Linked DNA regions of Homo sapiens: all the other regions are linked to region 1. The links come from fine-mapping of genetic effects on gene expression. Tissue or cell type: whole blood. Region 1 holds a variant in brackets; each other region holds the start of a gene. All regions are shown on one strand. Distances are between the middles of the regions.

What was found. PIP is the estimated chance that this variant, and not a neighbour inherited with it, causes the effect.
Region 2: it holds the start of EHD4, and the variant in region 1 is fine-mapped to the expression of EHD4 in whole blood (TOPMed, PIP above 0.99). The same link has a PIP of 0.9 or more in B cells, T cells, blood mononuclear cells, monocytes and non-classical monocytes.
Region 3: it holds the start of SPTBN5, and the variant in region 1 is fine-mapped to the expression of SPTBN5 in whole blood (TOPMed, PIP above 0.99). The same link has a PIP of 0.9 or more in monocytes.

Annotation. Positions count from the first base shown.
Region 1 is chr15:41,925,615-41,930,759 of GRCh38, reverse strand. The region is part of intron 3 of EHD4 (EH domain containing 4); the gene reads left to right. EHD4-AS1 (EHD4 antisense RNA 1) reads right to left here. Exons shown (of 4, transcript NR_120332.1): 2 at 4,593-4,679; 3 at 2,254-2,410; 4 at 1,474-2,078. Among named protein-coding and RNA genes, the nearest start is that of EHD4-AS1, 6.8 kb to the right of the region's middle. RefSeq lists enhancers at 1,151-1,280, 1,301-1,380, 1,343-1,846, 2,742-2,951, 4,352-4,869. The variant A/G (reference allele first, on the strand shown) is at 2,998.
Region 2 is chr15:41,970,062-41,975,206 of GRCh38, reverse strand. It overlaps EHD4 (EH domain containing 4), which reads left to right and starts at 2,650. Exons shown (of 6, transcript NM_139265.4): 1 at 2,650-2,948. The coding sequence starts at 2,713. It overlaps PLA2G4E-AS1 (PLA2G4E antisense RNA 1), which reads right to left and starts at 2,444. Exons shown (of 4, transcript NR_120334.1): 1 at 2,209-2,444; 2 at 1,249-1,403. RefSeq lists silencers at 2,599-2,728, 2,769-2,838, 2,939-3,208 and an enhancer at 4,971-5,145.
Region 3 is chr15:41,891,784-41,896,928 of GRCh38, reverse strand. SPTBN5 (spectrin beta, non-erythrocytic 5) reads left to right here and starts at 2,876. Exons shown (of 68, transcript NM_016642.4): 1 at 2,876-3,030; 2 at 3,383-3,647; 3 at 3,868-4,035. The coding sequence starts at 3,432. It overlaps EHD4 (EH domain containing 4), which reads left to right. Exons shown (of 6, transcript NM_139265.4): 6 at 1-996. LOC105370792 (a long non-coding RNA gene) reads right to left here and starts at 4,152. Exons shown (of 4, transcript NR_135681.1): 1 at 3,851-4,152; 2 at 1,593-1,702; 3 at 1-1,349. RefSeq lists an enhancer at 4,032-4,091.

The DNA.
Region 1 (5,145 bases):
CAGAAATAACTGTCTCTGAGTAATAGTTTGGCTTGAGGAGCTGGTTAGCTGATAACTTAATTGCTAGAGCTGGTCTGCAGTGCCAGCTGTTGTCCACAGGCATGCAGGACACTTGTGCAATGCCAAGATGTTTGAAAAGAGGAACAGGGCAGGGCGAGGGGTGGGGTCTTCAGGTCAGAAGTTGCTTTCTAGCCCTTTATGACCCCAGTTGTCATCCCGTTGGTTTAACATTTCTCTTTAGAAAACTGTAGCCTGAAGAAACATTACCTTTGCCCTTCTGAACCACAGAATGACAAGATGCATTGTCACGGTCAAAGCCTTGCTTATAAATGTTTGACCTCATCACATTTGGGTGGAGTCTGTTGGCATTTTGCCTCAAGAAAATTCAGTGCAAGTAATGTTTGCCACGCCAACTCCGTCTGATTTATAGACATATTGTATGAGACTTTCTAGCCTGACTTATACACAAAGCCCACTTGAAAAATGAGGAATGGACAATTTCCATGTGCGTGACACGGGATTCCTGGATCTGTTCATCCTAATATATAATAATATCAGAAGGTTAGATGGGGTGACTTCTTAAGCATCCTTGGAAGTCATACATTCCACAACCCTTCCTCAGATAGTTTCTTTCAGTATAGAGTTGTTTGGAATTGGATGACAATAAGTTAAACTTTGGGGCAACTAATTACACCTATAGAAACATTCAAGGACCTTCAAATTGGCCCAAATGCTATATAGCACATGAATCCAGTAGAAGGGATGTAATAAAATGAAACTTACTGTTTGATAATTGTGTCATTTAGAGTTGTTCATTCAGTATTCCTGTAGCCATCTGAAGGGTCTACTGTAGCCATCTGAAGGGTCATCTTAGGCTGGCACTGTAACTAGTTCGTGTCTGTACTATACAGACGCTGAGCTAAATCGATTTTCCTGGGAATCTGGCTTTTTATTTCAAAGAAGCTTACTGTTTGGAACCACCCTATATAGCTAAAATTTAAGATCTAGAAAGAATCCTTTTTGATCATCTGACTCACAGGTATAGAAACTGAGGCCCAGCAGAATGAAATTGTTAAGCCAGGCTCCAGGACTTACAGGATTTTCTTGGTAGGTTTTTTTACCAACTTCCCTCTCCAGCAAAGAGCCTAAAATGACTGATAATACCATGTTGCTGTCTTTCTCCAGGGCTCAGCCTTCTTTAAATGGGCCTGCTTCTTCATCTGGTATTTAATCTGAGATGGAAAGTGAGATGCGAAACCCAATTTTCCCTTTCACTTGGTCACATGCCCAGAAGCAGCAGCGTTCAGTGGGCCGAGTACTGGCGTGGAACCTTCCTCTGTTCCCATGTCTGTGGCGTGGCACGAACCTGTGATGTGGGGCTCTCCCGCCCTTGCCCTGGAGGGGCCTTCAGGGACATGTGGCTCACCCATCTGTTATTGTCACATATCCCCCAGAGGAAGGAGGGACAGGCTGTGAGGTTAGCTTGTTTATTTTATGAGGAAACAGGCACAGAAAAATTAATTTACAGAGTCTTGGACAAAATCCCAAAGGAAGGAGGAGTGGGAAGAGCAGAGAGCGGATAAACAGCACAACGCCATCCCTGGACACGCCTAGTTCTTGCTTTTATTTAAATTTTGGTAGGTTCTGTGGCCACACCCACTTTAGGCTAGGTACTGGGAGACAACCTCTGGGGTTTTCTGGTAACCAGTTACATTCTCCAAGAGGTGGCCATTACCAGCTGAAAGGTTCGAGGTGAACTCACATCCAGCCTCTCCAAAAGGAGCTTGGGAACCTGTGTTCCCTCCGGGCAGTCTCCCAGACCGGGTTTGGTATCAGCCCCTCCCTGCCACTGCCCTGCATCTGGTCAGCTGGGGAAAAGGGGGCAGGGAGGAGAGAAGGCCAGTGGAGCAGAGCCATTCATTCTGTGGCTTATTTTGTCATCAGCAGGTCCCATTGCTCCCGCTGATTGGGGACTGCCTCTTCCTCGGGGGTGTAGTTGCTGAGATACTGCTTCCCCCTCAGGGTGGTGCTCGGCACACCCACCATAGCCTCTGGCAGGGAAATGCTGGAATCCAGACCTTCACCAGAAGCACCATTGTAGAAGAAAAAGAACAACCTCCTCAATAATAATGCAAGTGGGCCAATAATTTTTACAATATGCATATTTGTTTTCTTGATATAAAAATAATATATATTCATTGTAGAACACTTAGGAAACCACAAATCAAAAAGGAGAAAATAAAGTACACTCACCTCTGATTCTACCATCCTGGTACACATATGGTGCAGCGCAGCGGGTGAAAGCACAGGCTCTAGGATCCGAGTCCCTGGGTTTGAATCCGGGCTCCCCTGAGAAACAGCTGTGTGCCTTGGGTCGGATACTTAACCTCTCTGAGTCTTTTTTCCTCCCCTGTAAAATGGGGGTAATAAAAGTACCTACTTCATGGGATTGTTGCAAGGATTACAAGATTGTAGTGATATGGAGCTCACAGGGCAGTGCAGGAATGTAGTAAGAGCTAAGTAAATATTTGCTGCAGTTGTTGATTTATAGCTATCATTTTGCTCTCTGCCACAATGACATTTTCAGAAGACATTTTCAGAAGCAGACTTTTCTAGTTGCGAAGTAAACTCAGCCAGGAAACAATGCAGAGACTCCTTGCCCTGAAGTGGCTGTTATTATTAACTAAAGGGACTCTTTTCGAAGTGTATTTATAATACCTGAGCGATCCCAGATAGTTGATGTTTACTTTGAGATGATTTACACTTCCCCTAGTTAGTAACAACCCTTTTTTAGAAACGCATACCACTATTTAAGCAACTAAACTTGCCAGATTGCTAAAAATCAGTTACATTTCTTGTTCAAGTGAATTCACTTGATTAAACCAATTTTACTGTATTTTACTGTGATAAGAACACTTAACGAAATCTACCCTCTTTACGCATTTTTAAGTATCCATTACAAGCACAATGTGGCTATAGGCACAGTGTGGTTCCGCA[A/G]ATCTCTAGAACTTATTCATCTTGCCTAACTGAAATTTTATGCTGGTTGATTAGCAAAGCCCCATTTCCTTCTCCCCACAGCCTCTGGCAGTCATGGTTCCCCTCTCTGATTTTGTGTGTTTGACTATTTTACATATCTTATACAAGTAGAATTATGTATGTTTGTCCTTCTGTGATGGGCTTATTTCACTTAGCATGTTTTTTTCCTCAAGGGCCATCCATGTTGTTGCATATTGCAGAATTTTTTTTAAGGCTGAATAGTATTCCATTGGATGTGTACACCACATTTTCTCTATCCGTTCATTCACTGATGGATGCTTTTCTTATTTCTACATCTTGGCTGTTGCCATAAAGCGTCCATCAATGAATGAATGGATAAAGAAATGATGCCAATAATGCTGCAGTGAACATGGGTGTGCAGATATCTCTTCAAAGTCCTGATTTCAGTTCTTTTGGACAAATACCCAAAGTGGGATTGCTGGATGATATGATAGTTCCATTTTTAGTTTTTGGAGGAATAAACCAAATGTATTGAACACCTACTGTGCTCAGTAGTAATTCCTGGGTGTATAGTGGTGAATAGAATAAGGAGTGGAGTCTCTGCCCTCAGAATTTCTGTCTTATAGTCAGCAAATGTATATACCATTTCAGAGTATAAGTGCTATGAAGGAAATTCATTAAAGCTATAAGACTCTATCCCCGGGAACCTGATTTGATAGTGTAAGGCATCTGCAGTGGGCCTTTGGGTTACAGACACAGTGAAGACTTGGCCCTGCTCTCAGGCTGCTACAGACCCCATCAGGAGGAAACAGGAAAGGCGGTTCTGTTCCACTGGGTGGGGGAAGGCCACCTGGAGGAAAGTTCCCCAGAGGGATGAGTGGCTGTAGTTGGAGAAGAGGAAAGGGCATTCCAGACAGAAAGAAAAGCCTGAGCAAGGGTGTGGAGACAGGGAAGTACAGGATGCTGCTGCGGAACAGCAGAGCCCAGTGTGGTTTGTGCAGTGGAGAGGGTGGGGCTTAGTAAGAGACTGAGCAAAGGTTGAGAATTGCAGCAGAGGCTAGTCATGGAGAATTTGTTCTGGAAACATTTATTCTAGACATAATCAGGGACACTCACAGTTTTGGAGATAATCTTTGAGTTCTAAGAAGGGATGGGGATCGTCTGAGGGCTAGATTAGTGAGGTTGGAACCTGGGGACAAGAAGGAACTCTTGGTGCCTGCCTCGTGCTGGATGCTCACTGCACGGGTGCTGGAGGGACACAAAGGTGAACATGCAGCCAGGAGAGCCTGGGGTTGCACAGACAGAGCCACACAGAAAGTGCTGGGGGCAGTGGTAGGAATGCCCACATGGAACTGGAGCTACTAACTATGGGAGGGGCGGGCAGGGCCTCGAAAAGAGGAGAGGTTTGAGCAGTTTTAGGCAGTGTTCCGTCACCACCACGGGCAAGTGGCCCTGCCCACCCCAGGAGTGGGAGGAGGGACATGGCAGGGGGAGCTCGGCTGCATTTCTGCCTGCCTTCCATTGCCTTGCATCCTTTCATTAACACACATCTTTCTTTGTTTTTTTTATTTAAGTAGAGACAGGGCCTCACTCACCCAGGCTGGTCTCAAACTCCTGAGCTCAAGTAATCCTCTTGCCTTGGCCTCCCAAAGTGCTGGGATTACAGGTCTGAGCCACCGCACCTGGCCATAGACACACATCTTGTTTAAAACTCATAATTAGAAACTTGGCTCTGAAAAGAAATGTAAGCATTATTTTTCTCTTGTTCTATTAAAAATAGACTGCCAAATTTGCTTCCTCAGGGACCCCCGTGCTATATTTACCTGAGCCAGGGAGCAACTGTTCTAACCCCTTATGCCATTCCCTGGTGGCTCTTTCTCTGGCCAGGATGGAGGACCACAGTTTCCACAGGGGCTGTGACGGGAAGCCCTTGATTGGGTAGAAGGGGCTCCTTCCTTCCTGCCCCCTCCTTTTGTTCCCAGAACATGGAGCCAGGAATGCCAATCTGGGATCTTCCGCAGGACAAATTCTTTCTCCTAGTTCCCCAAGCTGTGTAGCTTTTGGGTCCTTTGGCAAAGAAAGAAACTATATTTTGAAACAACTGGACTGATTACATCTCTTTTTTGTTCCAGACTAATACAAGTTTCA
Region 2 (5,145 bases), 44 kb before region 1:
TTTAAGTTAATTTAGTGATGTATCTATTTAGGTTAGGTTTATTGATTGTAACGAATGTTCCATTGGTTCAGGATGTTGATAGTGGGGGAGGCTGTGTGTCGGGGAGGGTGGGGGTATATGGGAACTCTCGGTACTTTATGCTCCATTTTGCTGTGAACCTAAAACTGATCTGAAATTCACGAGTCATTATCACTTACATTCACTCTTGGTGTTGTACATTCTGTGGGTTTTGACAAATATATAATGACATGTATCCATCATTATAGTACCATAAAAAGTAGAGCCACTGCCATAAAAATCCTCTGTTCTCTGCCTGTTCATTCCTTCCTTCTCCCTAACACCTAGAAACTACTGACCTTTTTACTTCCTCCATAATTTTGCCTTCTCCAGAATGTCATAAAGATGAAATCGTACAGTACATAGCATTTTCGGATTGGCTTCTTTCACTTAGTAATAGGCATTTAAGTTTCCTCTGTGTCTTTTTATGGCTTGATAGCTCATTTCTTTTTAGTGCTGAATAAGATTCCATTGTCTGGATGTACCACAGATTATCCTTTCACTTACTGAAGGACATGTTAGTTGCTTCCAATTTTTGGCACTTATGAATAAAGCCACTATGAACATCCATGTACAGGCTTTTCTGTGGATATAAGTTTTCAATTCATTTGGGTAAATACTAAGGAGCTGATTTCTGCATCATATGGTAAGATTGTATTTATATCCGTTTGTTTTTATGTATTCTAAAAAAATACATCGAAGCTTTTACTTTTGTTGTCAAATATGTCAGCCTTTGCTTTCATAATTTCTGTCCTTAATGTTGGTTAGAAAGGCTTTTCCACCGCCAAATTGTATAAATCTCTTGTACCTTCTTCTAGTAGTGCAGTGGTTTCATTTTCTTTTTACATTTCAATCTTTGTTTTATTTTGACACAAGGCAGATGTCTAACTTTATTTTCCCTTGGCTTTCTTTTCACTTCCCTAGTTACATACAATTCCCTCCAACTATGTGACCCACACAACAACTCCAAAGGAGTTTCCATTTTGCTCTTAAGGAAACTAGGGCAGAGAGGTAACTCATCACATTTAAAATCACACAGCCATTAATTTACATAGTCAAGGTTCAAACCCAGATCTTTTGATGCAAAGTCCTGTTCTCTCATACTCCAAGTATGGTCCAGGGATGGGTAGCATTGGCAATACCCGAGAGCCTGTTAGAAATGTAGAGTCATGGGCCCCATCCCATACCTACCGAATCAGAATCCGCATTTCTGTTAGGTTGGAGAAGTACTGCAGGGTGTACTGTTTCCCCAGACTTAGGCCACATCAGAGTCACCTAGGGCATCTGTTGAGCTCCATCTCTCCTCAATATTTTAACTCAGTAGGTCTGGACTGAAGACCAGGAATCTGCATTTTAACAAGCATCCCAGCTCATAAATGCATATATGCAGGTGGCCCCATGGATCACACTTGAGAAATGCTCTAAAACAACTAAGAAATATTCCTAAGCTACAATCAAGGACACAAAAGGTGATTATTTCCCCCAATCTCAACTTAGATAAGTGAGTATCCTTTTAACCTAGAAAAGAAACAGGCCAGGGGCGGTGGCTCACGCCTATAATCCCAATACTTTGGGAGGCCAAGGCAGGCGGATCATCTGAGGTCAGGAGTTCAAGACCAGCCTTACCAATATGGTGAAACCCCATCTCTACTAAAAATACAAAAATTAGCTGGGCATGGTGGTGAGCGCCTGTAGTCCCAGCTACTCAGGAGGCTGAGACAGGAAAATTGCTTGAACCCGGGAAGCGGAGGTTGCAGTGAGCCGAGATCGTGCCACTGCACTCCAGCCTGGGCGACAGAGCGAGACTCCGTCTCAGAAAACAACAACAACAACAAAAAACAGCTAGGAGGTGACAATGACTCACATGTCAATATGTGGAAATAAAGTTGTAATAATGAGGATAATGTAATAATGAGAGTAATGACTAAATTTTCGGCTTTACAGAAAAACACATAAAGAAAACTAAGGGGAAAAAGCCTTTAGCTGATCCAGAATTTAGTGAGGGCAATGTGGAGAAGTAGGAGAAACGGCTACTCAAATAGATTCCAGTCCACTTCCCCTCAAGATTGTGTCAATTATGCCCGTGAGCCTGGGTCTCTTGGCCTGTAAAACGGAGTCATAACCACCCGCCCCCGGGAAGACAGAACCTGCCTGTCCACTTTCTGAACTTTTCATCCCCAGTATCGACGTCCAGAGGCCTGAATGAGTAAACGTTCCAGGAGATGGAGCAGCCTCCGGAGGCTCGCTTTGGGCAGCTCAGATTTACCCGGAAGCCGATGCCACCTGGCCAGAGGTGAGGCACCGGCAACCAGAAGGGGGCCCTGAGCATGACCGGTCAGTGCCACCCGGCCGGGAAGACACCATCTCCCCGCCCAGTCCTCTAGAATGACTCCGTCATCAATAATTCATTAAGAACCTCCTCTCAATTGGCTGACGCCTTCAGCCCTCTCTGGCAGAGATCCAATCAGGAAGGACCTGAGAGAGCTCGTCTGAATAGTGGGCGAGCGCGCGTGACGTAGCGGCCGAAGACTGGCTGTGGCAGCACAAGGCGGGGCCCTCCTCGGGCGGCGGCCAGCGCGGCCGGGGCGGCTCAGTGCGAGCCGGGGAGAGTCGAACCCGGAGCAGGGTCCCATCCGAGCGTGGACTGGCGGCAGGATGTTCAGCTGGATGGGGCGGCAGGCGGGCGGGCGCGAACGCGCTGGCGGCGCGGACGCGGTGCAGACGGTGACGGGCGGGCTGCGCTCGCTCTACCTGCGCAAGGTGCTGCCGCTGGAGGAGGCGTACCGCTTCCACGAGTTCCACTCGCCTGCGCTGGAGGACGCCGACTTCGAGAACAAGCCCATGATCCTGCTGGTGGGCCAGTACAGCACCGGCAAGACCACCTTCATCAGGTACCGTCACCGCCCCTCGCCCGGCTCCCGCCCCGCTCCGCCCTCCCCACGTGTGCGCCGCAGTCGGCCGCCTCCCGCCGCTGCCCCTCCCGGCCGGCGCGACCTCGGGGACCCCTCCCGGAGCTCGGCGCCCGGTGCCCTCGGCCCCGCCCCGGCTGGCCAGCCCCGCGCGCTGGAGGGTCCCGCGAACCCGCGCCCTGCGCACTCCGAGCCCTCCTTCCTTGCGGTTCGGAAGGCGTTGCTCCCGCTGGCCTCGTCCGGTCGCCCTGGCGGGAGGGTCCAAGGGAGAGAGGGGGCGCGAGCCATAATCAGCATATTCTTGACGAGGGAGTGATGCCTAGGGATGGAAATGGGGGGAGAGGCGTAGGGTATCCGAATGGGACAGAGTCCTAGTTGGAGAGTTTGTTTAACTATTCATTTGTTCAACTATTTCTTGAACAAATGAATGGCAGCAGGAGAGCGTATCGCCCAGGCCCCCTTCCCTTGAGGTCTTTACGTGCCACCCCACAGTGTTGTGGGGAGGGGATAAAGAGGCCGCCTACGTTCAGTTCATGCACCGCCTTTAGCCGCCCGTAGGAAGTGAGCTGCGTGTAGCAGCCGCACCAGCCTGTGGAACTAAGGGGGAGTGTCATATTACTATTTGTTAGTTTCCATTTCTTAGGTGGGTCATTCCCTCCTCGCTTACCCTTGACAACTGAAAATATTTGTCATGCTTACCGTGTTTCTGAAAGCACACAATCACTGTGCATACCCTGTGGTTCAAATCATATAGTTTCAAAAGAAGTGACTTTTGCTGGGAAATTATTTAGACAGAAACAGATTGCTTTGTTGATCACCTGTTTTATTTCTAAAGCAGCCAGCATATTTAGGCTCACTGTTTTTGGTAAGAAGAACTTATTTTTCTGACTTAAGCCGTGTATCAGTTGAAACAAAGTGCTGATCATTTAAGGTTTTGGTCCAGGGTTTTGGAAATTGTAACAATCTCTTCATCATTTGATGTGCAACAGGTGTTGAGAAAACTGCATCTATATTTGGATACATGCCATTTCTGTTAAGTAGCGACCTCTTTTTCTCCACTCCAGTGACCTAAATAGTTCCTACAAATAGAGTAGCTATCACTACAGGAAATATGTTAAATCCAGGCCTCCAGATACACTGCGAATGAATTCCACAAAACAAATATACTGTGTATTGAAATGTCGTTCTAGATAATAAATTGAGTGTGAAGAAAGTAATTTCAAAATTGCTTTATTTGGTGCTTATGGACAAGACAAAAATAGAATTAAATATGTCACCGTCACCCAGACACTCAAAATGAACCATAGCTGTATTACAGTAACTGGCACCTTGAAAGATGACAAATGTCACATTTAAGGTCTCAGTAATACTGTCTAGTTTTTAGGTACTAGGGATAATAAAGTGTTATGGCCAAGTGGTACAAGAGTGGGAAGCGGTACTGTTGAAACATACAAAGAAGAAAGGCATATATTTTTGTAATTTAGTGGTGGCATGTCCCCACACCCTAGGCATTTCCTCCTGTTTGTCTTTGCTGTGAGGTCCTTGTTGTGCCCAGGTGTCATCAGGGAGCCCCTGCTAGATGCTGTGCCAACCTGGAGATAATGCAGCCCTCTCTCTGCTCCCATAGACTGGATAGCTAGCCAGCCTGATTATCAACTCCCAGGAAGATGAATACAACTCACAGGAACATGAATTTATCTTTTGTATTTTTCCAGATTTCTCTCTCATTATATTCTCACTCTTCTCTCTGTTTCATTATTTGGAGAAATTTGTGGAATAGCTAAGCGCAGTTTTATGAAGGGTTCTGAGATTTGATTCCTGGCAGCTACCTCATCCAAATTGGCCACCTCTCAGCAGGTGCTGGAGCTGTGGGCCACCCTAGGGTGAGGGAGGAATCACCTTATTAGGAAGCCATTTGTTCTTGAGGCTTTCCTTGAGCTAAGTGGCTTTGTTGTTAGGTGATGTACACAAGGTAGACCAGTGAGGTTAGAAGAAAATCAGTGTGGGCAGGAAGCTTGGTGAGGCCACAGGAGACCTGAATTGCTTTTCAGATTGGAGCTAGGAGGAAGTGATTTAGCACCCGGGAGGAAATCCCCAAACAAAAGGGCAGCTACCCTGGAGACTTGTGAACTTGGAATTAAATATCACCCCAGACACTGTAAATGAACCATGGATTCAT
Region 3 (5,145 bases), 34 kb after region 1:
GAGTTAGGGAGAGGGTGTGCCTGTGAGCCCCAACTCTTCCTGTGGAGAGAAACCCAAAATGCAGCCGCTTCAGAAGGAAAGCGGCCCCATCAGGTGGGGACAGAAGAGGGTAGGCAGCAGAGGCCAGGTCTGTGGACAAAAGCCCCACTTCAGAGTGGTTGGAAGCCAGGACAGGAGGGACTCATGGAGGTGACCGCTTCACAGGAGTCCTTTCTCCAGTCGTGCTAGGGAGGAGCCCCTGCCTGTCCAGCACTGCCCCTGCCTCTTGCTGTACCTTGCCAGTGTGCCCTCCCCCCGCCCACTACCATAGTAGGCATCTGGCTTTTCCCACCAACCCATCTACCTTTTTGGTGGTCCAGACCTACAGTCTCCTTGCAGAGCACTCCTCCTCCCACCCTCACTTCAAGTGAGGTTTGGATGAGATTGACCACATCCCCTTGGTCACAAATATTGGCTCAGGAATGGACATGTGGCCCTGTTCAAGCCTATGAGAGCCAGGACCCCCAGACTTATGTTAGAACTCTTGAGAGAGATACTCTGTCTTCTCTGAACCTTGCAGTATATAGAAATGAGCCTATTGATGCAACAATATAAATGGCACTGAGAGGGGTGTCCAGAGCTGCTGGGGTCAGGGGAGGGAGGTCAGCCTGGCAGAAGCCATCTTGTGGAGCATGAAAATGAAAGAGACCTTGAGAAAGGCCAGAGGAATCCAGGCCTGTGGTGACAACATTTGAGCTGCTGGATCAAACCTCACCTGAAGTCCTTCCTATTCCTACTAGATATTTTTTTCCACTGTGTGGGCCAATGCATTCCCTTTATACTGTGTAAGCCAGGCATGGTGGCTCACACCTATAATCCCAGCAATGCAGGAGGCTGAAGTGGGAAGATCGTTGAGGCCAGGAGTTCAAGACCAGCCTGGGCAACCTAAGAAGACCCTGTCTCTAAAAAAGAATTAAATATAAATAAATAAATAATAAAAATATAATGTTTAAACCAGTTTCACTTGAGATTTTAGTTACTTGCAACATAAATAATCCAAACTTTGTTCCGACCCACAGGGTTCTCATTTCACCAGGGGCTGCAATCAGTCGTGGCCAAACAGGAGCCAGTCCTTGCATTGTATGCAGTGGCTTTAGCTGCCGTTGAGCTAGAAAGGAAGAAAAGCAGTCCACAGCCCCCGCCAACAGCTTCAAAATGCCAATCCCTGTTGAGGTCTATGTGCGAAGCACCACGCAGTTCAGTCTGTCCTCCCCGCTCACAACATCACACAGGACTCCACGGGCCGAGCAGTTCAGTCTGTCCTCCCACGCTCACAACATCACACAGGACTCCATGGGCTGAGGGTCTTACTAGGAGAAGGAACAAGCTCAGTCTCCCTGGGGTAAGCGGGTGGGATGAGGGACTTCCTAGAAGAAACAGGATTTTAACTGGGGCAGGCAGGATAGGTGAATGTGGATGATGGAGAATGGGAAAGGACGTTCAAAGCTGAAAGAGCAGCTGAAGCCCAGCCTTGGGGCAGGAGAGCTCTGGTCCTGCTCAGGAAATGGTGAGTGGCCCATGGAGAGCACCCAGAGTGAGGGGGGCAGACTAGCCTGGTTAGGTAAGCTGGCAGGCTTCCAAGGCCTGGCTGAGGCAAGGTCTGGCAAGTCTGGATTTTCCTTCCCAGGCTGTGGGAGGCTTCACAGGCACGAGCAGAGCTGCACTGTGGAAAGGTGCGGGGTGGTGGTGTCCAGGATGCCGAGTTAGGGGGTCCGTGATGAGGACCCCCAGGGGCAGTGAGGGCAGAAGGGGGGGTGCACGGGAGGACCGCCACAGCAACTGCTGCGAGCAAGGGAGGGACGCAGGGTGTCTGGAAGCCAGCCGCTGCAGAAGGGGCCTGGCAGGGAGAGGACAGCAGGAGAGGAAGCGTCTCTCAGACGCAGGAAGCCGCACCCCACCCGAGACCACGGCACCTCTCAGCGTCACCCCTGACTGCCTGCAGTGGGCCCAGGCGGTTCAAGTGTGACTCATCCCTAGCCCAGCTCTCAAGGGCGCGCTGAGCGGCTGTCCTGCTGTGGGCTGTGGCTGCCAGGAGCGCCTCCCTGAGGAGCGGGCTGTCGCTTCAGAGGCTCCAGGGCCGCTGGAAGACACCCACACACACACACCCCAGCCCACACTGCTACCCTGAGTTTAGCCAGAGGCGGGTGAGACCCCCAGAATTAGAACTCGCCTTCACTCTGGCATGTAGTCCACGGCTGCTCGGGGAGGAAGGGATGGGCGCCCACCAGCTCCCTCTGCACCCCTGCCTCCGAGCCCCGGGCCACGGCCAGCTCTGTGGAGCCCAGAGTTAACACCGTGTCTCTAATTTTGGAGGAGACTCCACAGCCCTCGCAGTTCCAGGTCACCCCTTCCTCCAGGGAGCCTACCCTTCAGCCCCGGGCTAGGCAGGCTGCACTCTGGCAGGGCCTGGAAAGCCAAGCCCAGGGTCTGTGAGGCCCTCAGTCTATGGGCTGTTCCCTGGGGGTGAATGAGAAGACCACGGCCCAGGACGCTCCCTCATCCCCTCGCCCTGGGTGCTCACAGAGAGGCCCCAAGAGGGTACAGAGGGCAGTCTCAGATTGGGAAGTGCGTCCACAGGCTTCCCACAGAGGCTCTGCCCTTTGGTACCTCCTACGCAGACTGCAGCACCCCATGCGGTGGCAGGGCCGCTCCATGGGCCTCTGCGTCCTGGGAGCCAGGACCCCCACCTGGAGTTGGAGAAGTTGCTGGCGGGGAAGGGAGGATGATGAAGGAGGACATCATCTGGCAATGGCCCTGGAGCATTCCTGAACCACCCCCTCCCTGTCTGGGCCACGCCCTGTGGCAGGTGGGAGGACAATGCCGCCTGTGTGCCGTCACCCCAGCACGCTGGCTCAAGGGGAGGGCTGTGGTGCAGCCCTGCTCCAGCCTTGGCCTCTCCTGATGTCCCTCTCCCTCCCTCCACAGCCCCTGCTATCTGCCATCTCCATCCGTCCAGCTGGGCCGCCTCTGTGGAACCCAGGCATCACCAAGGTAAGCAGCCCCTGCTATCTACCATCTCCATCCGTCCAGCAGAGCCGTCTCTGTGGGACCCAGGCATCACCAAGGTAAGCAGTTTCCTGTCTTCCTTCCACCTGTCCCAGTCACTGTGGTGGAGGGACCTGGCAGCAGGGGCTCTGAGAAGAAGAATCTGGAAGGTGGGGTGGGGCAAAGGGGGCCCTGGGCCATTCAAGCACAGGGGACCAGAAGCACTGGCCCTTACCTGGCTGGGCTCCAAGCTGCAACCCCCATGAAATGTGAGGACAGTCTGGCAAGGCGGGACCCCAGGCCCCTGGTAGAGGGGCCATCTCCATTCACATCATCCCCTAATCTGCATGCCCTCCAGGTTTAGGGAGCCATCCAGCAGCTCCTCATCCCCAAAGTCTGCAGGGCTGATGGCTGGTCAGCCCCACAGTCCCCGGGAGCTCCTCGGGGCTGCAGGGCACCGCAGCAGGAGGCCCAGCACAGAACTCCGGGTCCCGCCCAGTCCAAGTCTCACCATGGACTCTCAGTACGAGACGGGCCACATTCGCAAGCTACAGGCCCGGCACATGCAGATGCAGGAGAAGACTTTCACCAAGTGGATCAATAACGTCTTCCAGTGCGGCCAGGTGAGTATAGCCAGCTGTGACCCACAGCCCACCCATACCAGGCCCCCAGCTCTGGCCAGTGGGCCTCCGGGGTGAGCTGTGGGGTCATCTGCCTGAGGCCAAGCTGAGGCCAGAGCTCCTTCTTCCAAAGCAGCTGCTCTGGGTCGTACCTCTCAGGTCCCAGGATGGGAGGACAGGTGAGGCTGGGCTGACCCCATACTTACCCCTGTCCCCTCCCCAGGCGGGCATCAAGATCCGGAACCTGTACACAGAGCTGGCTGACGGCATCCACCTCCTGCGGCTGCTGGAGCTCATCTCAGGGGAGGCCCTGCCACCCCCGAGCCGGGGCCGCCTGCGTGTGCACTTCCTGGAGAACAGCAGCCGAGCTCTGGCCTTCCTCAGGGCCAAGGTGGGCCCCAGGGAAAGGGGTCTGGGATGGTGCTGGGGCAGGCAGCTGGGACAGGCTGAACTACTGGGTCACCTTTCCTGCGCCAGGCCACTGGGCAGAACAGAGGAGCTGGGGCCTGAGTACAGGAGGAGTGGCTGGGACACAGAGGAGCAGAAGCCACGCCCTCCTCGCACAGCACCCCTGACTTGGAGAGCACCCAGCTGGCCATGGCAGTAGCAATCCAGGTCCCTACTGGGGTGGAAAATGTCACTGTCTGTCATAAGAGAGACTCACAGGATTCTAGGCCAAAAGAATCTTAGCGTTCTCTTAGGCTTTTCATTTCACAGATGAGGAAACAGAGGCCCTGAATTATTTACCAGGCAAGATCGATGGTTAACCAGCCAACAGAGCCCAGATGTGGGACTAAGACGGCAGGTGGGGAAGAGGAGCAGGGCCTGTCTTGGAGAAGGAGGGAGGAGGCCTCAGCAAATGGGGGGAGGCAGAGTCACCTGAAAGAAAGGGACAGGCTAAGGAGATGGGCACTAAAAGGAGGCCGGAGCTCCAGGGACAGAGGGACCCTCATGGCCAGGGTGAGGGGCTGGTGCAGGGGTGGGGTGGGGCAAAGGGATCATTGGAAACCGGGAACTGTGAAGGCCAAGGGCTCCTGGAGGTGGCTGTCCCTGGAGGCTGTGAAGTCACTGAGCTGGGCCTGGCTGGATGGAGCCTGACTGTGCGTGCCTATCACTATATCCTGGAGTGGAGCTTACATCCAGCCTCCTGGGGTGTGTTGGAGGAAAGCCAGGGAGGGGAGAAGCCCAAGCAAAGGGAATGGGAGTGACTGCTGTCCTGAGCAGGTGCAAGAGCAGAACGCTGCCAGCTGCAGAATGCTGGGCCCTAGTTGATCCAGGGACAATGACCCTGTGAGCCAGTCATCTCCCCTCCAGGAACTGGGGAAGGGTGTAAGCCCCACAGCCTTTGTCAGAGGTGTTGCAGCTCTCCCCAAGCTTTAATATACAGCATGTCACTGATACCTGTGAGGGTGACATCCTTGTCTCCATACACATAGGAGGCAACTGTGGTCTAGAAAGGATGACGGAGTTGCCGCAAACACACAGGGAATGTGTGGCAGAA